Linked DNA regions of Homo sapiens: region 1 is linked to region 2. Evidence: fine-mapped expression QTL. A gene starts in region 2. The other region holds a variant in brackets. All regions are shown on one strand. Distances are from middle to middle.

What was found. PIP is the estimated chance that this variant, and not a neighbour inherited with it, causes the effect.
Region 1: its variant is the best candidate, but not a certain one, in a credible set for the expression of PLEKHD1 in lung (TOPMed, PIP 0.71).

The regions. Positions count from the first base shown.
Region 1 is chr14:69,521,732-69,536,732 of GRCh38, reverse strand. PLEKHD1 (pleckstrin homology and coiled-coil domain containing D1) reads right to left here. Exons shown (of 13, transcript NM_001161498.2): 7 at 14,356-14,450; 8 at 12,411-12,504; 9 at 10,611-10,789; 10 at 9,904-10,036; 11 at 9,401-9,545; 12 at 8,801-8,950; 13 at 5,182-8,483. The coding sequence ends at 8,314. Among named protein-coding and RNA genes, the nearest start is that of PLEKHD1, 45 kb to the right of the region's middle. RefSeq lists an enhancer at 6,949-7,118. The variant G/A (reference allele first, on the strand shown) is at 11,045.
Region 2 is chr14:69,474,318-69,488,815 of GRCh38, reverse strand. It overlaps PLEKHD1 (pleckstrin homology and coiled-coil domain containing D1), which reads right to left and starts at 4,088. Exons shown (of 13, transcript NM_001161498.2): 1 at 3,702-4,088. The coding sequence starts at 3,850.

The DNA of each region.
Region 1 (15,001 bases), 48 kb before region 2:
TTTCAAAAATATGCTGATACTCATTTCCTGCAAATGTAACATTCTTCCCAAAAAACCTCCATAAGGTAGAGATTTTATATAATCTACACCAGGATTGGAGGAGAGTTTTGGGAGCATCTAATTGCACACCCTCATTTTACAAAGGGGAGGTTGGATGTCTCGGATTAATTGTTGGCTCTTCAGGATCACCCAGGCCTTCAGATCCCCAGCCCAGAGGCTTCCCATTGGCTGCCTCCTCTAAGAGGTTACTTCTCTTCTAGAGGATACTTGATGTGGGAAGTGTGGATGAAGGGCAAAGAAAAGAGAAAATCAAGAGAGTGCCAGCTTGGAAGTAATTGAAGGCAGCAAGAAACTAGGCCTGTTGGCCAGGCACAGTAGTTCATGCCTATAATCCCAGCACTTTGGGAGGCTGAGGCAGGAGGATCACTTGGGGCCAGGAGTTTGAGACCAGCCTGGACAACATACCAAGACCCCACTTCTACAAAAAATAAAATTAGTTGGGCATAGTGGGACATGCCTGTAGTATCAGCTACATGGGAAACTGAGATGGGAAGATCACTTGACCCCAGGAGTTTGAGGCTGCAGTGAGTTATGATCTCACCACTGTACTCCAGCCTGGGCCACAGAGCAAGACTCTGTCTCTAAAAATAAATGAAAAAAAGAAATGACCTGTTACTTTGCAAAGTCCTTAGGTTGAGAAACTCTGAACTTGTTACATTGGACTAACCAGACTTCCAGAAAAGAAGAGTTCTTAGGAGACCAGCAGTTACCAAACAGCTGAGTTAATCCCTTAAGAACTCATGATAGAAAATCTCTGAGTGAAGATTCTTGGGACCTAAAATATAGAGGAGCTCAATATATTTACTGAATGAATGACTGAATGAATGAATAAGGCAATGGAAAAAAGTCACTTAAAATTTTTACATTTTTTTAGGGGATGCTAGAAAAAGCACTGCCCTTGAACTCAGATACAAGCTGACCTTCCAGTTACAAGCTGTGTGACCTTGGGCAAGTCCCCCAAACTATGTGGGTTCCATTTTTTTCTGTAAATCAAGGAAAGATATGTGAATACAGAAGAGAAGTCAATGTGAAAGTGCATGGTATATAATGGACTCAGTAAGTGATGGACAAAGCAGAGTCCTTTGTTTCATACCTTAAAGGGGAGAACAAGGGTGAGACTCAACACCAATAGTGCAAAACTGCAGCAGATTGTCACCAAAACCCCTCCACCCCCGCCGTCTCCCAGAGGCTCAGCTCACTTTCCCATTGGAATTTGCAAGCCAGCTCGGAGCATGCTGCCATCTGCTGGGAAGAAGATAGACGTGAACACCAAAGCATCCCTAACACCAGGCCACAGTGGGGAGGGAGAAACCTGGAAAAGGAAAGGGTAGGGATCCAGTTTCCTTTGGCTGTGACTCTCTTGTCCTTTAAGACATCCAGGGCCCTCCCCATTGGCCAACAATTTGTCAGAAGAATGAGATTTCAATCAGGTTTTCTCCTGAAAACTGATAGGACATTATCCAACTTTAAAAAGGAAGGAGATTCTGACATACGCTACAACATGGATGAATCTTGAGGACGTTATCGTAAGTGAAACAAGCCAGGCACAGAAAAAGACCAATGCTGTATAATTCCACTTATATAAGGTATATACAGTAGTCAAAAATCATAGAGACAGAAAGTAGAATGGTGATTGCCAGGGGCTGGGGGTTAGGAGAATGGGGAGTGTCTAATAGATACAGAGTTTGAGTTTTACAAGATGAAAAAGTTCTGGAGAGTGGTTGCACAAAATGTGAACATATTTAACACTACTGGCATATATTATATTACACTTATAAATATATACATGTGTGGCCGGGCACGGTGGCTCACGCCTGTAATCCCAGCACTTGGGGAGGCCGAAGTGGGCGGATCACGAGGTCAGGAGATCGAGACCATCCTGACTAACATGGTGAAACCCCGTCTCTTCTAAAGAAATACAAAAATTAGCCAGGCGTTGTGGCAGGTGCCTGTAGTCCCAGTTACTCAGGAGGCTGAGACAGGAGACGCGTGAACCCGGGAGGCGGAGCTTGCAGTGAGCCGAGTTCGTGCCACTGTACTCCAGCCTGGGCGACAGAGCAAGGCTCCGTCTCAAAAAAAAAAAAAAAAAGAAGAAATATATACATGTGTGTGTATGTGTATATATATATATATATATATGTATGTATTTTGAGATGGAGTCTCATTCTGTTGCCCAGGCTGGAATACAGTGGCACAATCTCGGCTCATTGCAACCCCCGCCTCCTGGGTTCAAGTGATTCCTGTGCCTCAGCCTCCCAAGTAACTGGGATTACAGGTGGGCGCCACCACGCTCGGCTAACTTTTGTATTTTTAGTAGAGATGGAGTTTCACCATGTTGCCCAGGCTGGTCTCAAACTCCTGGCCTCAAGTGATCCACCCACCTCAGCCTCCCAAAGTGATGGGATTACAGGTGTGAGCCACTGTGCTCAGCCTCTGTACACTTAGAAATATTAATAGTTAAAATGGTAAATGTTAAGTTGTGTGTATTTCACCACAATTTAAGAGCCAGTAAGTGAAAGAGATAAGCACGTGGTAGACACTTGACTTCATGCAATAGAATCACAATAAATACGTGTTGAACGAAGATGGAAAGAAGTGGCATGGTGGCTCACACTGGTAATCCTACAACTTAGGAGGCTGAGGCAGGAGGATTGCTCAAGCCCAGGAGGCTACAGTGAGTTATGATTATACTAGTGCACTCCAGCCTGGGTGACAGAGCAAACCCTGTTTCTCAGAGATGGAAAGAAGTGATGCTGACTGATGGTCTCAGATACAGGGTGAACATGACAATAGGCATCTTTTCTTTACCAGAAAAGCCTTCCAAGCAACTATGATTAGTCACAGTTACCTTTTCCTTGAGGTGATAAATTAGTTATCTTTCCTATTCTCATCTCAAAGCAAACATATATTTTCATAGACAGTTCTAAGGATGGCATGGCATTGAGTGCTACCTGAGCCAGAACCTGACATCCTGTATGTTCTTGATCACTTGTAGCAGTGGCAGCCAATTTTCTGTTGATTTCAGGGATGCAAAGTCCCAATCATAGAACTTCAGAACCACAAAGGCTCTGAGCAGCCTGTAAGATTGAAGGGATTTCTCTCCTGCTTACTAAAAATGCATAAATACAGTAAACATTTTAAATAGTGACTTTTCAAAAGCCACAGGAGCCAGCAAGTGGCAAAGCAGAGCCTTCCCCCGCACCCACAGCAGCAGACAGTGCACAACAACTTCTTCCCCTAGGTCTCGTCTTGCCACTGGAGTCACTGCTCTGCAAGGGGGAAGGCTCTCTTTGTGGACACTCCAAGGCCCACCAACCACAGCTTTTGCCAGGATTACAAGGGGAGGCTGAGTCTGTTCACAATGGGACTCTCAGCCCAGAGGCAGGTGTCAGATCCTCCAGGGGAAGGGTGGTGGAGTGCAAAGAGAGCATGAGCCCCCAAATGCAGCTGGCTCTGAAACTGCCTGGATGTCTCCTGGAGCCCCTGCTGTTGAGCCCTTGTGAGCAACTCTGACTCACCCCAACTTCCCTGCCCAACTGTCAAGTCTCAGCCAGAGGCATACTCAGAGTTGACAGTGACAGGTAAAGTTCACCACAAGGGATTTGGTTATTAAGGTCCCCACCCCCCAGGACTCCTGGACTTAGAGTATTTCCTATATTTCCCATGAACACCTTTAACCCAGTAAGATGGAGTGAAGTTCATTTCTGGGTCAGAAGAGCTGTAAGCCATGGGTGGAAGCCCACGTCCAGGGAAGGGAATGGGAGATGGGATGTGCCGAGCCAGGAGAACTGAACCTGGGGATGTTGACACCACAACATTCCACACCCACTCGGAAGTTTGAATAACCAGTTTCTCCCAGTTGCTTTGTGTGTCTGGGAGTGGCTCTCTTTCAGGAGGTAAAAACAACCATTGTAATCTCTCCTAAAGCCTTGCAAAAGACATCCCTCAACTCCTGTTTGCCAGGGGTGGGGTGAGATAAGAGAAGTCAGCAGCTTTTTCTCCAAGAGTCAAAGCTGCAGAGTTTCTGACTTTGGAGAGACCTTGCAAGGCCTGGGGGTCTGAGAAGTGTCAACATGGCTGATTGCAGAAGCACACAGTTCCACAGGGACTGCTGGACTTTATCTGAGGGCTTCAGGACTATTTTGCCCAGTGGATTTATTTATCTTCCTATTGGATAAAATCTGACACACCTGGACTGGCTCCCTGAGACTTGAGCAAGTTTTGTTCCACTATCATCATTCATTGTGGACTCCAAACAGGCTGCTGAGACTATGCTGAGCTGGGTGGGCTTGGAGTGGGTTGGGGGCAAGAATTACATCCTTCCAGATGAATAGAGGGAGAGCATTCTTGCAAGGACTGGGAGCTGGGGAATGGGTCAGAACCCAAGTGTTTCACGATCTCTTGCTTCATCCATTAACATCATTGGTGGAAAAGCACACAAACCAAACAGGAGGAGAATCCAGTCATCACCATTTCTCACTCATTTCTGGCTCTCCTTTATATGATTACTAAACAAAAGCATACACTTCCCCACATCAGAGCAGGTAAAACTGTCAGTTTCCAGCAGGGATACTGAAACTAGCAGGCCATAAAGCTAGGTATCCTGGCTGGGCATCATGGTACGTGTCTGTAGTCCCAGCTACTCAGGAGGCTGAGGTGGGAGGATCACTTGAGCCCAGGAGTCTGAGGTTATAGTGAGCCATGATCACACCACTGCACCCCAGCCTGGGCAACAGAGTGAGACTCTGTCTCTTAAAAACAAAAACAAACAGGAAAACCAAACAAACAGGAAAACCTCACTAAACAAAAAACCTAGGTATCCTTTGTCTCCCTGAGGCTATTCTCACTGGCACAGTCAGTCCTGTTCCTTTAGTCTGTGCTAAAATCAGAAGAAAATCTAGCTGATAGTCCTTGTTACACAGGGACAGCCAGGACCTCAGGGCTGGAACACAGATTTTTCAATTAATTATTAGGAGGTGCAGCAGTGGGGAGCACTTCCTCAAATGTAGAGAAGCATGTGCAGGAGTACGTATTAGAGACAGGACAAGCAGATTCCATAATTCTACATTTGGCCTGCAGGTAGCAACATCTCTCTAGCAATGACCACACCACATACTTAAATAGATACTGCAGGAAATGCATTTAATTGGCCAAGGAATAAGAGTTTTGTTTTTAAAAATTAAAAAAATTACATCAACATATCTCCACTAAGTAATTTCCACTCCTACGTATTTTGATATAGAGATGTTGCTATTTTTCTATTTACAGTGCTAGGTACATAGTGAGCTTTTAACGAATAAACACTTATGGATTGTTCAGTTGGCTGAAGATAATTCAGACTTGCCTGAGGCATGGAAAATACAGGGTGAGAATAGGAGGAAGTATCGATTGGTAAATGTGCATGGAAAAGCACTGCTACAGTTTGAATGTTTGTTCCCTCCCAAACTCACACTGAAATTTAATTACTATCCCAGTAGTTTGCAGGATTAAAAAAAGAAATTTGATTGCCATTGTAACAATATTAAGAGGTGGGACCTTTTTTTTTTTTCTGAGACAGAGTTTCACTCATGTTGCCCAGGCTGGAGTACAATAGCACAATCTCGGCTCACTGCAACCTCCACCTCCCAGGTTCAAGTGATTCTCCTGTCTCAGCCTCCTGAGTAGCTGGGACTATAGGCACCCACCACCACGCCCAGCTAATTTTTGTATTTTTAGTACAGGTGGGGTTTCGCCATATTGGCCAGGCTGGTCTCAAACTCCTGACCTCAGGTGATCCGCAAGAGGTGGAACATTTAAGAGGTGATTTGGCCATGAAGACTCTCCCTTATGAAAGGATTAATGTCATTATCGAGGGGGTGGGTTTGTTATAAAAGAATAAGTTTGGCCCCTCTTGCTCTCTCACCCTCTCTTTGCCTGTCAACCATGGGATGATGCAACAAGAAGGTCCTTGCCAGATGCCAGCACCTTGATATTGGACGTCTTAGCCACCATATCTGTGAGCCAGTACATTTCTGTTCCTTATAAATTACCCAGTCTCAGGTATTCTGTTACAGCAGTACAAAGCAAACGAAGACTAGCACTTTCCTGTCTGGTTAATAGCTCGCCCAAGAAAAACAAATGCATCTGAAAATTATGAAAGATCTCTCTAAAAGCAAGCCATGATTAATTCTTTTAAAAAAAAGGAAACAGTAATCTTGGTTTTATAAATATTCCCCTTCAATTCAAAGTTCATCCTTCATACGTGTTAGAGAAACAAGTTCCAGGTTTATGCATGTTATACACGTTTAAAGTTTTACATTTAGGCTCAGCCCTGTCAAATGCATTTATTCCAAACTGACTCAGCCCTCTCCCCAGCTAGATTCTGCAGAGACTGTATGAAGCCACCAAAGTCCACCCATCACTGAAAGGAACCACTGAGATTAGTTTTGGCAGGAAGCACTGAGCAAAGAGCAGGGCAGCCCGGCCTGGGCTCGGCCAGCCTAGCAGCAGATGTGCATGTGTTCTTAGAGGCAACAATGCTCCTCTTCCCACAGAATAGGTTGTGGGCTCCCAGGTTCTTGCACTTTTTGCTGGGACTTGCCCCGAAGCCATCTGTTTATCTCTCAGAACTTCTTGGTTTTCCAAGCAGCAAAGAATGAGCACCTTTAATGTCAACAGTGTCCAAGAGCACCCTGATCCCAGGTGGACCCCTTTTCTGGAGGCCAATAGCCTCAGGTAGCTTTGGAGGGTGGGCCTGCAGGGAGAGGGTCTGGGCAGTCTGTCTGTCCATGAGTGAGAGACAGACACACCCTTCAGCCCCCTGGAGGGTGGTGGTCTTCCACAGAAGCTGCAGATTGGCGTTTCAGCTTCACTCCCAATGACACTGAGCCAACCAATGACTACTGGCCTCATCACAGGCCCAGGGTCCCCAGCTGCCAGAGTTCATGGTCACATTGCTTCACAGGCTGAAATCTCTGCAGGGAGAGGAGGCAGCAAGGTGACTGAAGCAGGGGCAGCTGGGAAGGAGATATCTGTGATCTCTCGACCAGCAGGAACACTGCCTCCCTGCGCAACCAGAAGTACATAATGCAGGAACCAGAGTGACTTTCCTTCACTCCTGAGCTTGTTTTCCTTGTGTTTGTTTGAGACAGGGTCTTGCTCTGTTACCCTGGCTGGAGTGCAGTGGCACAATCTCAGCTCACTGCAGCCTCAACCTCCCAGGCTCAATCAATCCCCTCATTTCAGTCTCCCAAGTAGCTGGGACTACAGGCATGCACCACCATGCCCAGCTATTTATTTTATTTTTTTTATTTTTTGTAGAGACAGGGTTTTGCCGTATTGGCCAGGCTGGTCTCAAACTCCTGACTTCAAGTAATCCTCCCGCCTCGGCCTCTCAAAGTGCTGGGATTACAGGCATGAGCCACTGTGCCCAGCCCACTCCTGAGCTTGTTACGTGTCCTCTGGGGGAGCCCCCAGCATCACTGCTGGCCCCAGCTCCCAGCCAGGGCCCTAGGTACACAGGCAGGAGGGACTGGTGCCATCATTCTACCCTTGCAGGGTGCCAAGGCTGTGAGTGAGCTCACCAGAGGAGGAGGGGAATCAGTGGGTGGCCCCACAGCCAGGGCCTGAGCTCAGGAAAAGCGGCACTGTGGCGGGTGTGTGGTATGTCAGGAGCCCAGAAGCTGCTGTCCTAGGCCCCTTTCCTCCTGCACAGCATGATGTGGTGTAAATGAGGGGTCTCAGCTGAGGGACATTTTGCTGAGTGTCAGAAGCAAAGGGAGGGTTAGGAAACCCTGGGGAAAAGGGAATGTCAAGGTAGGGAGGCAAGGCCTTTCTACATGAGGACCACGGGCAGGGCAGCAGAGTCCCAGAGAGGTCCAGTGGGCACCAGGGAGGGCTGCCATCTTCCTCAGTGGGGCAGACCCTGCCTGATGGCACAGTGGTAGACAGCACCTCCCCACCCCACTCCCTAACCGACACAAATCTCCACATACAACCAGGTCCTGTCCTCACCTCACCATGACAACCAGCACCCAGCTCAGGCCTGCATGGCCCTGGTGTGGACCCAAAGGTGGGGTGTGGGGTGAGGATGAGGAAGGCAGCGTCCATGTCCTTTGAGGGCAAGGCTGGCCCCCAAGTGGAGCTCCGGCCCAGAGGAGACATAGGCTCCAGACCAGAGAGGCCAGGAGCTGGTAGAGTGAGGCCTCCCTCTGCCACCCCTTCCCCTCCCCCGCCCATCCAGGGGAGACTTGGGAAGCAGGGGAGGAGCGCCCATCACTTTCCACCCCGGGAGAGTGCCGAGGGGGCTCCAGGCTGGGTGGCCATGATGTGGTAGATGGATTCCCGGAAGCGCTGGTCCCTGCTGAGCCGCTTGGCCACCTCCTTTAGCTCCTCCATGTTGTTGGCATCCAGCTGGGAGGTCATGAAGGACTGGGACGGCTTCACTGGGGAAACAGGAGCCCAACAGCCCTGTGAACAGTGCTCCCTCCACGAAGGCCTGGCCCTGTCCCCAGCCTCATGCCACCCCCTCACTCCTTTATGTGTGCCAAGCTTCTTCCAGCCCCTTCCCACACACACGGGCTTCCATATCCTTTGAGAAACCCAGGGCCCTGAGAATTCACCCGTTTGCCCAAGGATGGTGGGGCCAGGTTCAAGGCCACACTCTCCAGCCTCAGAGCTGGGCCAACCCTTCTGGCTCCCCATGTTGCCCTCTTCCTGCCTTGTCACCATCCCACCAGGGCACGCAGACAGCCACACTCACTGTCATTCCAGGAGGTGCTGGACCGGCGTCGGTGGAAGCGGCAGCTCTTGATGCGGCGAGTGGCTGCCTTATGGATGTACACGGAGTTCTTCATGATCACAGGCATCTTGGCCTCCAGCTCGGCATTCCGGATGCACTCCTCAAAGAACCCTGTGGCGGCAGGGCCAGGAAGGGTGGGGTTCCGACTGCATCCTTACCCCCAGCCAGTCCCTCCCTTCCCAAGGATCCTGGTGAGATTGAGTGGGAAATATTTTGACCCCGTCCCTCGAGATTCCAGAGCCACCTGCTGAAGGGGACTTTCTTTGCCTTTCAAACCACAATCTGCAGCCATCTCAGGGCACGTCTGCTGAGAACAGAGCTCTGAGCTTTTGATAAATGGAAGAAGCTCCTGGCTTTCCTCTCACCACAGATCCAACAGCCACAAGAAAGCAGTGGTGCTGAGATGCCTGCAGGCAGGTAACTGGAGAAGAAACCCTTCAATATCCAGGGAGCACCTCATGCCTAGCAGACCCTGTGTGGGTTTCCTGGCTCTACAGGGCCGGGATCCCATCTGGGGCTGAGTGCCAAAGCTGGGGGCCAGGGCCTAGAGGCAGGGCTTACTTTTCAGATGGCTCACATCAGCCCGCATCCTCTCCTCCTTCTCCTTATTCCGCACCTTGGAATTCAGCCCCTGTTCCAGGCTTCGCAAGGCCCCTTCTGCCTCCCGGAGACGCCTCTCCAGGTCCATGCGGACCTTCACCTCAGCCTGAGGTTGAGGAGAGGGAAATGAGAAGGAAGTCAGGTCCTGGAAGTAGCTGCCATCTTCCCTGGAAGCCTTCCTTGGTCACCCCTGGCTCAATGGGCGTGGATGGGAGTTATCACATCCCGCTTCTGAGTCTTACCCTTTGAACCAGATGGACTGGACTTGGCACCTGCACCCAGCAGGTGTCTGTCAATGATGCAGCAGACTTGCTGCTTCCCCTCGTGGTGGCTCCATCCCCCATGCCTGGCTGTCTGGTCAGACTGACAGAGATAATTCATGCAGCTACCCGGTAAAGTGCAGGGGTGGAAGGGGAGTCTCCAGGGAAGGGGAAGGGCCCTGGCACCAGCAGGCCAGGTCGCACCTTGAGCTCCCGCTCAGCCTGCTGCTTCTCTGCCGTCAGCTCCTGCAGCGAGTTCTGCAGTGCCTGGGACTGGCTGGAGTAGAACTCACGCTCCTCCTCCAGGGCCCGTGAGCGCTCCTCGTTCTCCTTCATCCTGTAGGGACAGAAGAGGCACTTTCTCAATGCTCACTCGCCAAATGGGATTGCCAATGGATGGACAGCTCCTCTTAGAGACCTGGGCTGGAGAAACCTTGAATCCCAGGCTTTATGAGCCCCTGAACTTTGTGGGTCCAGGCACCCAGGGGATGAGATTGATGGTGTGGTCAGTGCTGGGAGCCCTAGGTTTAGAGTCAGAAGACTGGAGTCCTGGGTCCAGAGGTTGCTTGTTCTGTGACCTCAGAAAAGTCATACAACCCCCCTGAGGCTCCATTTCCTCATTTGTAAAAGGGGGCTTAAAAACTTGCCCAGCCTGTCACAAAGCATGGTGACAAGGACTTAATAAGTCTGCATGGTTCACACCATTGCACAAGATAATTATCAAGCCAGCTTTGGGTAGTGAAAGTTCTCTTCCCACTTTCCTGGTGGGAAAACAGAGTCCTAGGCAAAAGGAAGTGAGTGAGTCCTACTTGGTCAGTGCCAAGTAGAACCCAAGAGTCTGGATGTCCAGTTCGAGGAAAGTCCCCAGACCCCAAAGTCAATGGTGTCTTCAGGGGTCGGGGCTCCCTCACCGCTTCTCTGCCAGGAGCTTCTCCTCTAAGAGCTGCTGCATCTTCTCCTCGATCTGCCGGAGGTTGCTATGGAGGCCCCCACTGGGAGGGGGCTGCTCACTCTGATTGGCCAGTGTCTGCAGGTGGTTCTCGTTCTCCTCCAGCATTTCCAGGGTTTTCTTCTTCTCTATGGAGAGTTCCTGGCATGGAGGGAGGCAAGGAAAAGAAAAGCCCAATTTAGGTTCTCCATCGTGGCTGCCCTCACCTGCTTTTCCGTTTGGGGGAGTGACCCACTCCTCTCTCAGTCCTCTATGGCCGCTGAAATGTCTTCATTCTTCTCCAGAGCTAAAAGGCCCAGATCTCTCCCACAACAGGGCAAGGTTACTCCTCCATCAAGAGTCATAAAGGAACCCAAAGTGCCTTCCAGTGGAGACGGCACCTACTAGAACGGGGTC[G/A]CATGATCTTCTGGGGTCCTGGTTCCTCCAGGGGTGAATGAGGAGACATAGTGGGCTTACGTGAAAAACACCCAACAGGAACCAGCCCAAGAGCATATTTAGATGCTCTCACAAACAGAGCGAGGCTGCAGTGAGCTATGATTGCACCACTGCATCCCAGCCTTGGCAACACAGCTAGAACCTGTCCCCAAACCACCCCCCACCCCACCTCCAAAAAAAAGATGTCCTCTCCATTTATCAGACTGGGATCTTGTACTCAATGGCATTACACAGAAGCAGAGTTGAAAATATCCATGGGAACCACCTCCCATGATGTGAAACAGGGAAAGATAAATGAATAAAGGCCCCACAAGCTCCAAGGCTCCAGTCAGTCAAGGGAGACAAGAAACCTTTGCAGCCTTGAAGGTAATTCATGCGTACAGCACAGGTATGGGCCATACACCATATGTGCCAGGCCCACTTCAGGGGATGGGCTTGGAGAGACCATGAAGACACAGTCTACTGAAATTCATAGTTTGGAAAACACACCTAGCATGTTAAGTCCCATAAAATATGTACAAAATGCCACGGGAGCCAAGAGCTCAGAGTAGATACCTGCCTTGAAAATCAGAGAAGCTTGACTGAGGAGATATTTGAGCTGAGACTTAGAAGGGTGAATAGAAGTTCTCCAAGCAGAGAAAAGGTGGAAATGATACACTGTGTAGAAGGAACAGTGTGGGAAAAGGTATGGAGCATGAAAGAGCTTGCTTCCTTGGAGTACCTGAGCTCCGCGGTTTGGAGCAGGGGTTGGGAGTCTGTGCAGGGCATGGAGGAGCAGTGAAGGGAAGAGTGAGGCGAGAGGGAAGGGGAGACCAGGGCCAGAGTTTTCACTTGCTTGCCATGCTAAGGAGTTTGTACTTTGTCCTTGAGGCTTGTCACCTCCCCACCCCATCCCAGTTTCTGTGGTATCAGATGATGGTGACCTGGCAGTTGATTTCCCTTTACGTTCAATGTCACTCAGGAGCAGCTAAGCGAACAAGACACAAGAAGGAAGCGGTGGGTAGCTCCACTGCCCACCTTAACCAATCCTCTATCTGGTATAAAAATGTAAGCACCAGAGGTGGATTTCCTGAGGCCATGGTAATAGCAAGGACAAGCCTGAATTTGTCCTTTTAGGTCTGAGAACAGACACTTCTTGCTTTGGGCCTCATGCCTCGGCCAGAGTTTTCAATGATCCATAGAGAAGAGACCCTTTAGATCAGCACCCCTCCATGCCCATTTCTCTTACAGATCACCCCCTGGGGAAACACTGCTGGAAAAAACAGTGTCATGTGGTCCAACCAACCAGCCTGCCACCTGGTCAACTAACCCACCAGCAGCCCCTCACCTCCAGTGTCTGCTGCAAGGACTCCGTGAGGTGCCTCAGTTCCTTTTTCTCTTGTTCTACACCCTTAAGGCATCTTGCAGTCAGTTCCAGCTCCCTGTGGAGACAGAGGGCTGGGTATGGCAGTGCCCACTCTCCCCACCCCCCACCAATCACCTCTGCACTTAGAAATGCTTTTGCTTCACTTCCTGATGGGGCTCAGGAGGGCTCTTGAATGGCCAGCCCCTCTGCACAGCTGGGCCCTGACAGCAGCAGTAGGGGCCTGGAGTTGAAAGTAAGTCCTGGCCACATGGGGTTGGAGTCACTTGCTCCAGGTACACATGCATCTGTCACCTGGAATAAACCTAGGGCCACCCCACAGGCAGAGGGAAACACTGGAGAAACAAAGGGGCCCCAGCCTCACCCTGTCTTCTCTGGACAGCACTTGCTAGAACCCATGGTCATTCTGACATAGAACATGGCTAAGGCCCCTCTTTGGGTTAGTAACAAGCTCCTTGCTGCCTTCTTCACAAGCTTCAGTCACCTTAGGCTTTTACACTAGTGTCCCCTCATCCTACTTGGAAAGTCTTTCCCTTCTCCTGCCCAATTTTCAAAATCCTACTCACCTTTCAAGGCCCATCTCACTCAGCCCTGTATTCAAGCCCACAAGCATCATGCATGTGTCTCAATTCTCGTAACACAGGAAATCTGCACCATGCCTTCTAGCACCTGATTACATATTATTACACTAATGTTTCCTGGGTATGAGTCTGGTTTCCCCAACCAGATCATACGTCCACTCTTCAAGGGAGTGGACTTGTCTTCTATTCCTTCTAATACCTGGCAACATTCTGGAAGCTGAGTAGGTGCTTGGCTATTTACTTAGTAAGATCCTCTGGGTTTTTCCCTCCTCAAAATACATAGTTAATTGACACCCTTGGATAAGGTTGTTATAAGAAAACAGTTTCTGGGCTATCACTGATCATGTGTGGTGATGATAATGATGAGGATGAGGATGACGATGATGACTACCCCACCCACAGCAGCAGTCTCCACATTCCTGGAGGCTGCCTCAGAATCACCTGGGGTGTTTTTAAAAAATATATAGATTTCTAGCCCTGGTGCGGTGGCTCACACCTGTAATCCCAACACTTTGGGAGGCCAAGGTGGGAGGATCGTTGAGGACAGGTGTTGGCGACCAGTCTGGCCAACATGGCAAAACCCTGGCTCTGCTAAAATTACAAAAATTAGCCAAGCATGGTGGCACATGTCTGTAATCCCAGCTCCTCAGGAGGCTGAGGCACAAGAATCACTTGAACCCAGGAGGCGGGGCTGCAGTGAGCCGAGATCGTGCCACTGCACTCCAGCCTGGGTGACAGAGTGAGACTCTGTCTCAAAAACAAACAAACAAACAAACATTTTTATATATACATATATACATGTATATAGATATATACATGTATATATATAGAGAGAGATTTCTAGGCTCTACCTTTAAAAGATTATAATTCAGTAGATGATTATAATGTACAACTAGGTTTACAAACAATACATGGTACTAAAGTTCTCAAATGACACATTCCCAAAAAGGACTATGCAGGAAAGACAGCAAATGTTGAGGGTCTTGGCCAACAGCAAGCACCTCTAGGCCAGCGTGTCCTGTCTGGCCCTGGGTGAGAGAGGCTTTCATGAAGGCAGGGGGCTTTGTGGCTTGGAGGGATGCTCCATTGCCTTATGCTCTAGTGGGTAGAAATGACCCCATTTATCTGGGTCAGGGGAGTCTACAGATTCTTCTGGGAACACTCAAACCTGGAGCCTTGGAGGACAGACTCAAACTGGGATAGACCCAAGCCTGGAGCCTTGGGAAGATAGCATCTCTGAGGTGGAGGCCTCCTCAGATCTGACGGGGAAGGTGGGCTCTGCATGCCCTAACTTAGTGGCACCCCCAATTCCCAGGCACCACCACCACCTCTTGATCTGCTCCTGCTCCATTCTCAGCTCCTGCACCACCTCCTCGAACTGCTGCTTCTCGGCCTCCAGCACCTGGTTAAGGCGCTCAAGCTCCTGAAGAGACCAGAGAGGAAGAGAAGAGTCACAGGCAGCAAAGGAACCCTGAGATCAGGATCCCCCACTCTATCCCAAGGGACCCTCTGGGATTTAGCACAGCCTGGGTCATGTGCTGCACCAGACCGGGAATTAAGTTCTAAGGCCCGCTGGCCCCACTCATTGATATGTAGTCCTGACAAACCCAAAATCTATGATGAATCGAGCCCACTGAAAACACATTTTGCATGCTGAAGACTGGGTTTAGGAACACTCCCAACATTACTCCCTGTGGCTGGAGGAAACTATAATTCTAAATATCTACTCTGCAGGGCAGCTCCAGTCACTGCCACCATCAGGCGGGTTGGCTGTCCCTCACACCTGGAGGAAAGAGTGGTGAGTGTGTATTTCCATTCGAGATCCCTGGAGTGATGTCTGTTAGAAGTGGCAAGGAAAAGCTATTCCCAACCCAAAAGTCAGAGAATAAGGACTCTATTTTTCTTGAGGTATCTGGGAAGCAATGACTCCAGGTGGCTTCAGCTTCCCTCTGCTCCGGCCCCAAAGTGGAGGAG
Region 2 (14,498 bases):
GCTCTGGAACAAGGAGCCAGAGAGTGAAAAACACTATGAAATCTTCAGAATAAAGTAATTTGGTCACTTTTTTTTCTGGAGGCAGAGACACTGTTCCCCAAGTCCTTCTTCTTTATCAATGCTGAAAGAGCTCCTCTGCTCTGTCCCCTCCCCAACTTCCCACACACATTAGCAGAAGATCCCTGCCCCTCAACTGCCACCTGGTCACTGTTCCCCACACCCTATGTTGCCACTCTGGTAGAAGTTTGAAGAATAGAAGTTTATTTTTTAAAGGGGGTCCTTCAGGCACCCTCCACAGAGGAAATGTTACAATTCTGCTTGTGGGATACCTCACACAGCCAGCTGAGGGAAATGCCAGGGGTGCCAGAAAGTGAGACCAAACCCCAGGGTCACCAGGGTGAGGCTGAGCCTAGTGCCGTGAAGCTGACATGATAGGCTCTTCTCTCTGCTCTGGGAAAGCTCGGCATTGGTGTCACCTCTGGGAAGCAGTGCTGAGCACCAAAGTCAAAACCCTGGGCTCCAAATCCCTGTGGGAAGAAAGTCTCCTCTAGTCTTTTTGGCATGGTGACCCTCATCTGCACAGATAATCTTTACACACTGTACAGGTTGTGGCCTGAGATTTAGGACACATGGCCACTGTCTCCATGGCTCCACTGGCACCAGGTGGACACAATGAATCTTAGCTCCCTAAGTCAGGGACCCACCGATGCTCTGCAAGAGTAAACTGCGGAGCTCGGTTCAGGCCCTACTGGCTACCCTGCCCCTGGGGAGGAGAAGGGGTGAGGAGGATTATAGATGCTCCTGTTGCAGGAAGGAAGTGGGTGGGTCCTCCTCCTTAGGGGTTCCGGCCTTGGGAAGTGTTCAGCAGGGATTTGGGAGGTGGAATAGAATGCTGGAAAAAGCATTCAATCTCAGGAAAGAATTAGTCTAGGCCAAGCCCTCACAGCATGACACTGGCTGAGGCTGAGATTTCCCACCCCCTTCCTCTTTGTCCTGGCACTGCCCAGGTCTTTGCACTTCCATCTCCACTCACAGACCAAGATGAGGACACAGTCAACAGCCTTCCCTTCTAGACATCTCTCCCAGATTATCTGATCTCTGCTAATTAATGCTTTTGATTCCCTTCCCCTTTTGTTGCCCCCAGGAAATAAGTTGACCCTTCAGCTCAAGGGCACCTTCCCACCCCAGGCAGGCAGGGCTGCTTGGGCGGTGGAAGCTGGAGGCACAGGTCCTAAGACAGACCCTGAGTGGAAAAGGTTTTATAGAACCCAGCTGGCCACAGCCAGTTCTCTCCAGCTTATTCTTTACTAATGCAGTGCTGAGACTTTTCAGGCCCCCTCCCCTTAACTGCTCCAGCCAGGGCATTGATCGCCCTAATGGCAAGGCTCTGCGGTGGCGGCCCTCAGCTGCTCTGTCCCCAAGTCTTCCTGTGGCTGCTAATTAGCTGAGCCCACAGACTCTACTTTACAAATGGGAAGCTGGGGCCCAGGGGGCCCTGATGGGAAGTGAGAGGGGGCTGAGCTGAGCATCTTTCTCCCCCACACCCAGGCCCTCTCTGGCTGGCTCTGTCACTGACCCAAGACTAAATAGCGTGTGTGTGTGTGTGTGTGTGTGTGTGTGTGTGTGTGTGTGTTGTGTATTCCCAGAACTGAGAACACAGAGGCCTAGAATGGGCAGGTGGGATGTTAGTTCTTTCTTGAGCCCCAGGTAGTCTTTGCACAGTGGCAGCTCTGAAATTCCTACAAAGGAAGGGAACCCAGGTAACAATCTCCTTGGAAGGAGGCTAAAGGACTTGACTTTTAGCTGTATTAGCAGAGCATACATACTGCTCAGACTCTGATTGCATCGTTTCGGGTGGCTTTGGGGGCCACGGTAGTGGATGGAGGAGAAGATGGAGTCTCTGGGTGGGGGACACTAAACCTCTCCAAGCCTCCTTGGCACTACCATTGTGCTTTTAGCTGGGGGCCTATGCCCTGTACTCCTGACACTTCCTAGCCCTGGAATCAACTGTAGGTGCAGAGACCAGTTTCCCAATGTACCTGCAGTGGTGAAGGGGAGGACCAGGGGACATACCCTGGGGGTCACAAGCACCTAGCATTTTCTAGGGATGCTGTCAGGTGAAAATGTCTGGCAAGAGAAGTCTTGGTTGACAGGACCCAGAACAGCAGCCAGACCCAATAGAAAAGAAAGATTAACTATCTGGAGCTGCTGAGGCAGAAGAAAGATGGGTGGTGGGGGGAGATATTCTGCTAATTGTGCTTGAATCTACACACAGCCTTTCCACCCCAGCTCTCCTGGCCCTGGGGGCTGTAGCTCACATAGCACAATACTGGAAGCTCCCCAAATACACTCCATGTTGCTCCAAGCCTTCATTTAGGGGGTCAGAGATAAGCTGAACTTTGGAGGAACTCAAGAAGCCTGTATCCCATTAAATCCCAGAGAGAAACCTGTCAGAAGCAACAAAACAACATGAAACCAGAGATATAAAATGTGAGCTACTGTCCACAGCTCCATTTGTTCTGCGGTCTTATAGAAACATTAAATTATTCATCAGAACAGAACATCAGCACCCACCACTACCACATCCACATGATCTGTGGTCCTGGGAACATTGGAGGCCCCCTCTGCTCAGGGGCAGACTCATAGAGTGTGGGATGGGGAAGGGGCATCTGGATACCCCTGGTTTCCTGGAAGGGTCACACCTCCGCGGAAGGGCTGGACAGGGTCTGCATTCTCCAGGCCATACCAGTAGTGAATCTCAGAACTGAAATTGACTGGAGAGTGGAAACTGTCCAGAAAATGGCCCACAGCACCTGCAGCCAGTTGGGAGCTTCCTGCAAGTCCAGGGCTGTGAACTCCCTCTTCCCTCAATACCTCCCAGGCTAATTTGTAAGTGGAGAGTGGCTACCGATGTCCGCGGAGTCGCGTCTGAGTTGGGGACCAGGCAGCTGGGGCTGAAGGATGGTTGGGACTACCCTGTCTCTCTCCACCACCCCTTTCAGAGGATCAATCCTTGGCAGAACCAATCTATCCCCTCCTTCACTCCAGCTGCCTCCCTCCTTTCCAGCTCCTCCGTCTGAAGCACTAGAATCTCTCTTCCCTGTGCTCACTTTTAAAAAAATTATTTCAAGGGACAGTTGGAGGGGTTGCCAAGGTCACTTCCCCATGGACAAGCACCCTTCCTGGCCCTTCCTCCCTCCTTAGCCTGAGCCTTTCAGAAGGGCCAGGTCCCTCTCCGTCTTAAGGGTGGGTGGTTGGCGGGAGGGAGACACTCAGGCCCGGTCCTCGCGGCCTGGGTCAGGGGTTGTGAAGACGATGGAATTGACAGTGGGGGTCCCGGGGTTGGGGGCATCTTTGGCTAGAGATGGAGTTTCTGCCTCCCCTCAGTCTGGCCTGATCTGACCTAGCTGGGATCCCACCCCGACCACGGTCTCTTCTGCCCACACCCAACATTCCCACTCGAGGGTCAGGTTCATTCCATAGAGAATTTGCCACCGCCCCAGGGCAGGGGCCCCATCTCCATTCTCCCGGCCCAGACTATGGTCCACATTTTCCTGCGGGAGCCAGTGTAGAGTGAAAAGGGGTGACGCCAAGGTCACACAGGAAAGCAGAGGCACGACGGCGACTGGAGGGGGTGGGAGGGGTAACGACGCCCAGGCTCTCTCCCCGGCGGTCTCCTTGGGGCGCGGGGGCGCACTCACCGCCGGGACCACTTGGCCGACGGCCTGCCGAAAGGCCTCTTCCACAGCACGCCGTAGAGCTGCACTTTGGTGCTGATATCCAGGGCGTCCGAGTCAGCCTGCTCCAGGGACGGCGAGGGCGACACCGAGTTGGACTTGGACGTGAACATCCTGCCTCAGCGGGGCTGTGCCCGGCCCGGACCCCACCTCCCCGGGGTCAGCAGGGACTCGGGGCGAGAGGCGAGGGCGGAGCCGTCGGAGAGCGTCCCAGCGAGCAGAGAAGCAGAGCGGCCCGGCCCGGAGCTGCAGCATCAAAGCGCGCTGGGCACTGGACGCGGCACCAAGGGGGCGCAGGGCGCGTAGCCGGCGGCTTGGGCTCCGGATTGCAGAGGGCCGGGCGGGAACTCCGCGGGGAGGGTGGCTCAGCCTCGGGCCGGCAGCATCTCCTCCCCTCCCGCCCTAGCCACCCACCCCCCCGGCGACAGCCCCAATTCTGGTGGCCCCGATTGGCTGGGAGTGGCAGGTGAGCCGGCGGGAGGCCGGCCTCGGGCGCCAATCAGGGCGGGCGCCGGCTGGAGGGCCGGGCTCCGTGCGTCCAGAAGGTCCCTGCGGGTCGCAGGGCCCGGGGACTTGGCCGCAGCGCGTCCCCGTCCCCGCCCCGCGCGCCCAACACCACCCCGGGGTCCCTCTCGGCGAGCAGCGCCGACATCGAGACGAGGGCCACGTCCGCTTTGCAATGGGGTTGGAGGCACTCCTGCAGACACCTGCTCGCCTCGGGGTGGAGGAGAGGACGGAGCTAGGGCGTAGGGTCACACACTCCGGCCTGGAATTCCACCGCAATTCCTACCGCTCCGTGAACTGCGGCGGTCTGGCTTTTCTCCCCAGTGAAGTGGCGATGCCTGATGCCCCGGGCAGGCGGGTGGCCAGGTAGGACTTCAGGAAGTGCCCAAAGTGCCCGCATGGGGAGGGGCTCCATCAAGATTGGGTTCCCCCCAACCCTTCCCCCTCAGGTGGGTTTCACTGTGCTCCGCCGCCGCCGCCTAGCGCGCATCGGATCGGATTTCTCTTCCTGGAACCTGACCGTGTCTGTGTCGGCATTTGGCACTCAACGCCAGTCTGGAGCTATCCGTGCAGTGTGTGTCCGTGATTTATCTGCGCGCCTGGCCCGCGCTCCCTGGGACCAGCTGTTCCATCCGCTTCCGCTCCTTTCGGAGTTGGCGTTTGGGGTGACCGGCTCATTTTCAGGCCAGGGAGATGCCGGCCGGGCCCCAGGGGACCGCCTCCTCCCGGCAGGTGGAAATGCTAGGCTGGCACAGCTGCCTGCCCCGCGCCACCTGCCAGGCGTGGAGACCGCGCAGTGAGCGGCCGCCCGCCAGACCACGCCGCAGTCGCGCTTTTCCAAGATGAGGAGCCAAGGACGCCTCTGGAAGTCGGATTGCAACAGAAGTTTACAAATGGTTAGCCCGAGAGCCAGATCCACATTGCTTTATGAATTTGCCCCAAGTTTTTAAATTGAGGTATACTTCATGGTAAAATGCACACATCTAAGTTATTTCTTTGATGAAGGTATATAAGATGTAACCCCACCCAAAGCAACAGACAGAACATTTCCATCACCTGCAGAAAGTTTCTTCATGCCCCTTTATAGTCAATCAGCCCCCCAACAACAACCACTTGTATCATTCTTACCACCTCTGCACAGTAGACTTAAGTCTTTGAATGTAATGCCTAAAGGCGCATCCCCACAGGCCCCATCATCCCCTATTGTCTGACCTGCCTGGCCCCTCTGCAGGCATTTGGATGTGTGACGCCCACTAGATGTTCCCCAAGGCCATGCTAGATCTCCCCATTTTATGACTCTAGCTAATCATCACCCTGGTACTCTTCCCTTAACCCCCTCTGGGGTTCCCAAGCTCAGACAGCATCCCCTTGTTGCTCACTGTCAAGAAGTGCCCATCTGAATTCCTTGCACTTCTCTCATGGCTCAGGCCCCCATGCAGAACATCTCAGGCCAAGCCTTAACACAGGGCCCGGGGCTTGGCTCCATCAGGTGGGAGGAGGTGGGACTGGGAAGATGATGAGAGCCCGGGGCCAGAGTACAAAGTGGACATTTTCTGTATATTTTTTGTCTATTTCTGACACATGGTCTAATGCTTGGAAATCTTCCCACTTTAGGAGCCCTGCTTTTCTTTTCTTTCTTTTTTCTTTCTTTCTTTTTTTCTTTCTTTCTTTTTTTTTTTTTAGAGAGATGGGGGTCTCATTATGTTGCCCAGGCTGGTCTTGAATTCCTGGCCACAAGTGATCTTCCCACCTCAGCCTCCCAAAATGCTGGGATTACAGGTGTCCTGCTTTTCTAAGATGAAAGCTAGAAAACTTGTGTTAGGAGCCTGTGGTCTGGAGTTCACCAGTCAAGGGCCCCTGACTTTGAGTTGCAGGTAACAAATGTGAGGAAAAAGCATACACAGGCTTGCACTTTTCAAGGGAACATGGTGGCACATGCATCTGACGTGCCTTGGGTGACAGCTGTGTGCTCCTGGGGTGGCAGCAGCATGTGTGGTGGGTACCACAGCAGTCATGGGGAGGTGGGCTCCTAGTAGTGCACAAACAGCAGCAGCAAGAACTCAGGGGCAGCTGCAGCATTCTCATCCAACAGCTTCTGCAGCACTTCTTAGATATGGTTCCTGGAAGCTTTGCCTCAGGCCTGGCTCCCTGGCTCTCCCAATATCCTTTTAGTACATTCATTTCTTTTCTGCTGAGTCAGGTCAGTTGCAGCTTATGGCTGCTGGTGATGAGGACTAGTGGTGAGTTTGTGAGCCATGTGGGCCAGAGAAAGGCAGGATACCTGCAATCATTCAAAAGAAGTCCTGCACGGTAGGGCCCAGTGAGCCCAGATAATCCTGGGGAAGGCTGATTCCTTCAATAAGAGAAGTGAAGCACAGGTTTCTTCAATGACAAAGAGCAACCAATCTTTACCTATTCCCTCTGCATACAGGACGTATGAATAGACCTCAGATAATAGCAGTTAAGGCTGGGTGAAAGGAAGGCTCTGAGGCAAACAGCTGGAGTTTGATCAACCACTAGATACTTGAGTGGTTTCTGTTCCCCTTGACTAACCAGCCCAGACTGCACCAGGTCAGCCTTGGGAGAAGCTGTTTCTGCTTCCATTGTGTTCTCTACCTCAGCTGGTAGGCGTGCTGAAATCCTGGCTGAGTTCTACAGAAGACAGAACAAGCCAGGTGCCAATCCTGTGCGCTAGACCAAGTGGGTCAGGGCCGCCCAATCTTGCCAGGAAGTAAGTGAGACCAGTCAGGGGTGAAAACTCAGGATCCCTAAGTGCCCTACACTGCTCAGACACAGAGCTGATGTTCTAATACATTATTTACAACAGACACATTTCATTTAATTTTTACTATAGACCTATGAGGTACATACATATTATTTTTAGTTTTCCAGATGAGAAAAATAAAGTTCAAAAGCGTTGTCTACGTAAGTCACATAGCTAGTAATTTCCCAGAACATGATATAGGTCCTAAATATGTGTTGAATGAGGGAAAGTGACAAGCTGAAGTTTGGCCTGAGTCCTTAGCCCTTCCCCTTCACCTTGCAGCACACTGTCATGTGAAGTGAAGTGCAGTCTAGGAAATACTAGACCACTTTCAGTCTTTCCTCTCTTTTCAGGAATTTTTCTCAATTGCCAACTCACCTAGGGCTCAATTTCCTGTAGAACTGACAAAGCAATTCTACGAGTGCTACAGAATTTTAGCTGTGCTCAGGGATAGACTCCTAATGAACATATTTTTTTGTTGTTGTTGTTAGAGACAGGGTATCACTCTGACCCAGGCTGGAGTACAGTGGCGTGATCATAGCTCACTGCAGCCTCGACCTCCTGAGCTCAGGTGATCCTCCCATCTCAGCCTCCTGAGTAGCTGGGACTACAGATGCACGCCACCACATCCTGCTATTTTTTATTTATTTATTTATTTTAAGAGATGAGGTCTCACTATCTTGCCCAGGCTTGAACATACATTTTTATAATATTGTTTTATCCGTAGTCTGCAGGCAGATGTGATAGTCCCCACTTTTCCATAAAACAAATATTAGCATGGCCATTTTAAGTGACTAGCCCATGGTAAGGAAATGTGTGAATACCGTAGGGAATCCATCTCTTCAATCTTATATTTCAGGCTGCGCGTGGTGGCCCATGCCTGTAATTCCAACATTTTGGGAGGCCGAGATGGGTGGATCACTTCAGGTCAGGAGTTTGAGACCAGCCTGGCCAACATGGCGAAACTCCATCTCTGCTGAAAATACAGAAATTAGCCAGGCATAGTGGCGCATGCCTGTAATCCCAGCTATTCAGGAGGCTGAGGCAGGTGACTTGCTTGAGCCTGGGAGGCAGAGGTTGCAGTAAGCCAAGATTGTGCCATTGCACTCCAGCCTGGGAGACAAGAGCAAGACTCTGTCTCAAAAAAGAAAAAAAAAAATCTTATACACAAGGGTATTATTTAGCCCACTAAAACCAGGAATGGGCAGGAAACATTGCCTAATAGAAAATGGTGACAGAGGTCACCTGGAGTCATCGTTATTGGACTACCATGAGCCACAGAAGCTCCCAGCAACCTGGACAAAAGTGGCTCTTCCCATAGTGCCAACTCCTCAGCTCCCTGCCCCTCTGTCCCTGACCCCACCCTCAGGCAGGCCACGTCGTGTCTACTTGTTTCCAGGCTTGTGCCAAGTGAAGGACCCAGGAATGCTGCGACTCTGGCTTCAGCACCGGCATCTGTCTGTCAGCTGGGCCCAGCCCAAGTATCCCTGAGGGGCCAAGAAGCAGAAGAGGCAGAAAGACCTGAGCTCCAGGCCAGGCCCTGCTGCAGCACCAAGTGTCATCCATGGAACCCCTTTCCCTCCTCCAAGCCTCCTTCCACCATTCAGGCTCCTGCCCTAGATTGCACAAGGCTGTGGCACCGATTTCAGCTGAAACCATACCCTCCTCTGTCTTCCCGTGGATCTTTGTCCATCGCCCATTCTAACACACGTCTGTCTGCCTTGTTTGGAGTTTTTCTGTATGTGTTTTCTTCCCTTTCAAACTTGGAGGTCCTTGAAGACATAGTCCAGGGCATGTGGTGGGTGCTCAGCAAATGCTTACTGAATCGGTTTGTCCTCGCTTAGCCTCTGTTCAGGTGCTGCCATTTCCTGTTTCAATTTGCCAAACAAATGGAGACTGACCTATCAGGTCCTCAACTTCCCCTCCTCTATAAAATAGTCTGTGTGTGTGGCGGGGGGGTTGGGAACGTATGTGAAAGCAATCTCTAGATGGCAGATTGGTCACCTGCTTCTAGTGTTAACATAAGTTTAAGTCCAGGCTCTGCCACCAGCTGTATGAACTAAAGACAATCACTGGGCTTCTCTGGGCTTTCGTGTTCTGAAGGAACTCCTCCTTCCACTCTCAACTTGCTTCATGTCCAACTTTTTTTGTTATTATTATTATTTTTTTAGAGATGGGGTCTTCCTATGTTGCCCAGGCTGGCCTCTAACTCCTAGGCTCAAGCGATCCTCCTGCTCTGGCCTCCGGAGTAGCTGGGACCACAGGTCCACACCACCATGCCTGGCTCATATTCACCTTTCTCACTAGGACTGTGCAATACCATTTTCTGGTGACTCTTCCCACCAACAGCTGACTCCCTAAATAATCCAGCTCCCCACCATCATGCGTGCTCTTTTCAAGGCCCCAAGCTGATCCTGTAAGTCTCTTGTGTAAAGCCCTCTGCTGGGTCCCATTCCCTTGACCCCAGCTCCTACCTCCTGACTTTGGCTCTAACACTGATACGGTTTGGCTGTGTCCCCACCCAAATATTATATTGAATTCCCATGTGTTGTGGGAGAGTACTAGTGGGAGGTAGTTGAATCATGGAGGAAGGTCTTTCCAGTGCTGTTCTCATGATAGTGAATAAGTCTCACCAGATCTGATGGTTTTAAAAAGGGGAGTTTCCCTGCACGAGCTCTCTTCTCTCATCTGTCACCACGTGAGACATGCCTTTCACCTTCTACCATGATTGTGAGGTCTCCCCAGCCACATGGAACTGTAAGTCCAATAAACCTCTTTCTTTTGTAAATTGCCCAGTCTCAGGTATGTCTTTATCAGCGACGTAAAACCAGGCTAATACAAACACCCTTCACAGTCTAGTCCCTGGCCCTGTCCGCACTCAAAAGTTTGTACCAGTAGAGTAGGGTGCTGCTGAAAAGTTACCCAAAAATGTGGAAGTGACTTTGGAACTGGGTAACAGACAGAGGTTGGAACGGTTTGGAGGGCTCAGAAGAAGACAGGAAAATGTGGGAAAGTTTGGAAGTTCCTAGAAATTTGTTGAATGGCTTTGGCAAAAATGCTGATAGTGATATGAACAATAAGGTCCAGGCTGAGGTGGTCTCAGATGGAGATGAGGAACTTGTTGGGAACTGGAGCAAAGGTGACTCTTGTTATATTTTAATAAAGAAACTGGTAGCATTTTGCCCCTGCCCTAGAGATTTGTGGAACTTTGAACTTGAGAGAGAAGATTTAGGGTATCTGGTGGAAGAAATCTCTAAGTAGCAAAGCATTCAAGAGGTGACTTGGGTGCTGTTAAAGACATTCAGTTCTGTAAAGGAAGCAGAACATGAAAGTTCAGAAAATTTGCAGCCTGATAATGTGATAGAAAAGAAAATCCAAGCCAGCTATGGAGATTTGCATAAGTAATGAGGAGCCAAATGTTAATCCCCAAGACAATGGGGAAAATGTCTCCAGGGCATGTCAGAGGTCTTCACAGCAGCCCCTCCCATCACAAGCCCAGAGGCCTAGGAGGAAAAAGTGGTTTCATGGGCCGGTCCCAGGGTCTCCTGTGTGCAGCCTAGGGACTTGGTGCCCTGCATCCCAGCCACTCCAGCCAGGGCTGAAAGGGGACAACGTAGAGCTTGGGCCATGGCTTCAGAGGGCACAAGCCTCAGGCCTTGGCAACTTCCACATGGTGTTGAGCCTGCAAGTGCAGAGAAGTCAAGAATTGAGGTTTGGGAGCCTCTGCCTACATTTCAGATGTATGGAAACACCTGGATGCCCAGGCAGAAGTTTGCTGCAGGGGCAGGGTTCTCATGGAGAATTTCTGCTAGGGCAGTGCAGAAGGGAAATGTGGGGCAGGAACCCCCACATAGAGTCCCTACTGGGACATTGCCTAGTGGAGCTGTGAGAAGAGGGTCAGACCCCAGAATGGTAGATCCACTGACAGCTTGCACCATGCACCAGGAAAAGCTTCAGATACTCAACACCAGCCAGTGAAGGCAGCCAGGAGGGGGGCTGTACCCTGCAGAGCCACAGGGGCGGAGCTGCCTAAGACTATGGGAACCTACCTCTTGCATCAGTGTGACCTGGATGCGAGACATGGAGTCAAAGGAGATCGTTTTGGAGCTCTAAGATTTGACTGCCCTGCTGGATTTCAGATTTGCCTGGGGCCTGTAGCCACTTTGTTTTGGCCAATTTCTCCCATTTGGAATGGCTGTATTTACCCAATGCTTGTACCCCCATAGTATCTAGGAAATAACTAACCTGCTTTTGATTTTACAGGCTCATAAGTGGAAGGGACTTGCCTTGTCTCAGATGAGATTTTGGACTGTGGACTTCTGAGTTAATGCGGAAATGAGTTAAGACCTGGGGGACTGTTGGGAAGGCATGTTTGGTTTTGAAATGTGAGTACATGAGATTTGGGAGGGGCCAGGGGCAGAATGATATGGTTTGGCTGTGTCTCCACCCAAATCTCATCTTGAATTCCCATGTGTTGCAGGAGCAAGCCAGTGGGAGGTAGTTGAATCATGGGGGTGGGTCTTTCCTGTGCTGTTCTCGTGATAGTGAATAAGTCTCATCAGATCTGATGATTTAAAAAGGGCCAGCCTGACCAATGTGGTGAAACCCCATCTCTACTAAAAATCCAAAAATTAGCCAGGCTGTGGTGGCACATGCCTGTAATCCTAGCTACTTAGGAGGCTGAGGCGGGAGAATTGCTTGAACCTGGGAGGCAGAGGTTGCAGTGAGCTGAGACTGTGCCACTGCACTCCAGCCTGGGTGACACCAGAGGGAGACATTGTCTCTAAATAAATAAATAAATAAATAAATAAATAAAATAAAGGGGAGTTTCCCCGCCCAAGCCCTCTTCTCTTGTCTGCTGCCATATGAGACATGCCTTTCACCTTCCGCCATGATTGTGAGGCTTCCCCAGCCGCATGGAACTGTAAGTCCAATAAACCTCTTTCTTTTGTAAATTGCCCAGTCTCAGGTATGGCTTTATCAGCAGCGTGAAAACAGACTAATACAAATACCCTTCACAGTCTAGTCCCTGGCCCCTGTCCGCGCTCACTCACAGTCATTCCCCTGGCCCTCTGCTCCAGCCACGCTGGTTCTGCTAGCCTGGGAAGGTCCCATGCTCTTCACATCTTCTCACTTGCTGTCTCCTCAGTCTACAATGCTTCTCTTATTCCCAAAATCCCTCTTCAACATTCAGCCCAAAGACTTCTTTAGTGATGTCTTTTAGTTTTCTTTTAAAACATTATTATTATTATTTTAAGAGATAGGGTTGCTCAGGCTAGAGTGCAGTGATGCCATCATAGTTCACTGAGCCTGGAACTCCTGAGCTCAAGCAATCCTCTCTCCTCGGCCTCCCAAGTAGCTGGGATTACAGGTACATGCCAAAACGTCTAACTAATAAACTTTTTTTTTTTTTTGAAATAGGGCCTAGGGATCTTGCTATGTTGGCCATGCTAGCGTTGAACTACTGGGCTCGAAAGATCCTCCTGTTGCTGGGATTACAGGCATGATCCATTGCACCCAGCAGTGATGCCATTTTTTTTTTTTTTTTTTTTTGAGACAGAGTCTCACTCTGTCACCCAGGCTGGAATGCAGTGCCTCGATCTCGGCTCACTGCAACTTCCACCTCCTGGGTTCAGGGGATTCTCATGCCTCAGCCTCTGGAATAGTTGGGATTACAGGCACACACCACCACATGCAGCTAATTTTTGTATTTTTAGTAGAGACAGGATTTTGCCATGTTGGCCAGGCTGGTCTCGAACTCCTGACCTCAAGTGATCCACCTGCCTCGGCTCCCCAAAACGCTGGGATTATAGGCGTGAGCCATTCCACCCGGCAGTGATGCCTTTTCTGATGCCACTTCCTCCTCCCCTTGGTTGAATTATATTCCTATTTTGATTGTATTTCCTAAGGCCACGATGGGCCTTGGGCTCCTCTACCTGCGCAGGACTGGGTTTCCCCCAGGGCAACCCAGGAGAGAGTTGAGGTGGGGCACAAGGTACCACATGAAGGTGCAAAGCCAGTAGGCCAAAGGACTATGGGGGAGGGAGAGCCACAAGGGTGTGTGGGCACAGAAGACTAGTTGACCCATCTCTGGGTGCGCTGGGGAGTAGGGTCCCCCGGGGCCCCTGTGGGAAGCCTCACTTGCGGGGAAGCACAGCCTGAAGCCACATAAGCAGGCCCCCGCTTCAAAGTCTCTCTCCACTTGAGCTCCCTGGCACTAGACTAGATGGGCTGTGTTCTCATCAGCAGGGCCAGCCTCTTGCTAGGCTTCTACCCCACCCCACCCTCTCACTGCCCAGTAATCACTCACACCCAATGTTGCCAATGCAGAAGCGTTTTTGGGAGTGGCTGGAAAACCATGCCACCCTGTCAGCCTGCCAGCTACTCTACCGCACTAACATTAGCTCTTGGTACCCACCGGCATCGCTGTGGGCAGCACACTCAGCAGACACCCTGAAGGTATTCAGTGCTCCCTCTTGTGGGTGATGCATGAATTAGAATATACATTAATTTGGCTTCTAAGAGCAAGTATATTTTGGGAATGGTAAGAGGCAGATATGTTGAGTCTGGCCAATAAGCCCATAGCCATTTATTGCTATGATCTCACACACTCTCCCAGAACATCTAAGGGAAAGCCAAGATGCTGGCCCCTCATCTAGAACAGAATTAGCAGTTCACTGGACTAGGAGCCAAAGGCTGGTCACCAGCGTTAGCTCCATCTTTACTCAATGAGAAGACTTTGGTCAAGTTACTTTAAAACACTCTTGTCTTCATATATCAAAAGGGAGCTAACCAGGAACAGTGGCTCATACCTATAATCCCAGAGCGTTGGGAGGCTGAGGTGGGAGGATCAACTGAGCCCAGGAACTCGAGGTCACATTGAGCTGTGATTACACCACCACACTCCAGCCTGGATGACAGAACGAGATCTCCAATCTCTTTTTAAAAAAAGAAGGGGGTGACCAGGACATCTAACTCTCTGCATCATACTTTCTTGGAATTTTTTTTCCAGGTTCAATAGCATGTTCTTTTCTGGCTTTGTTACTAAACTGAATTTGCATCCGCACACCCGGTGGAGCAAAGCCAAACACGGCCATGGGGATTGCAGTCAGAGAAAGTGAGGCATTTATTGCAGGGTGCCAAGGAAGGAGAATCTGGCAGTTTATACTTCAGACCAGAACTCCCAAACAGCTTACAGGCAAGACTTTCTAAAGGCAGAGGTTACAAGCAAAGTCATAAGCCATAAATTAATACAATGGAGGCTATACGTTGGTTTGACCTAAAAAGGTGGACATCTCAAGGCGGGTGGGGCACAGGTCACAGGTGAATTCACAAAGATTTTCTGATTTGCATTTGGTAAAGGAGGCAAAACTTTGTCTAAAAATTCGGAGTTAGCAGAAAAGAATGTTAGCTCTGGCCCATGGTCGCGAACCGGTGGTCAGAGTTCAGCCCTCATTTCCCCCTATCTGAGGTCTATGTGCCAGCAGATCATT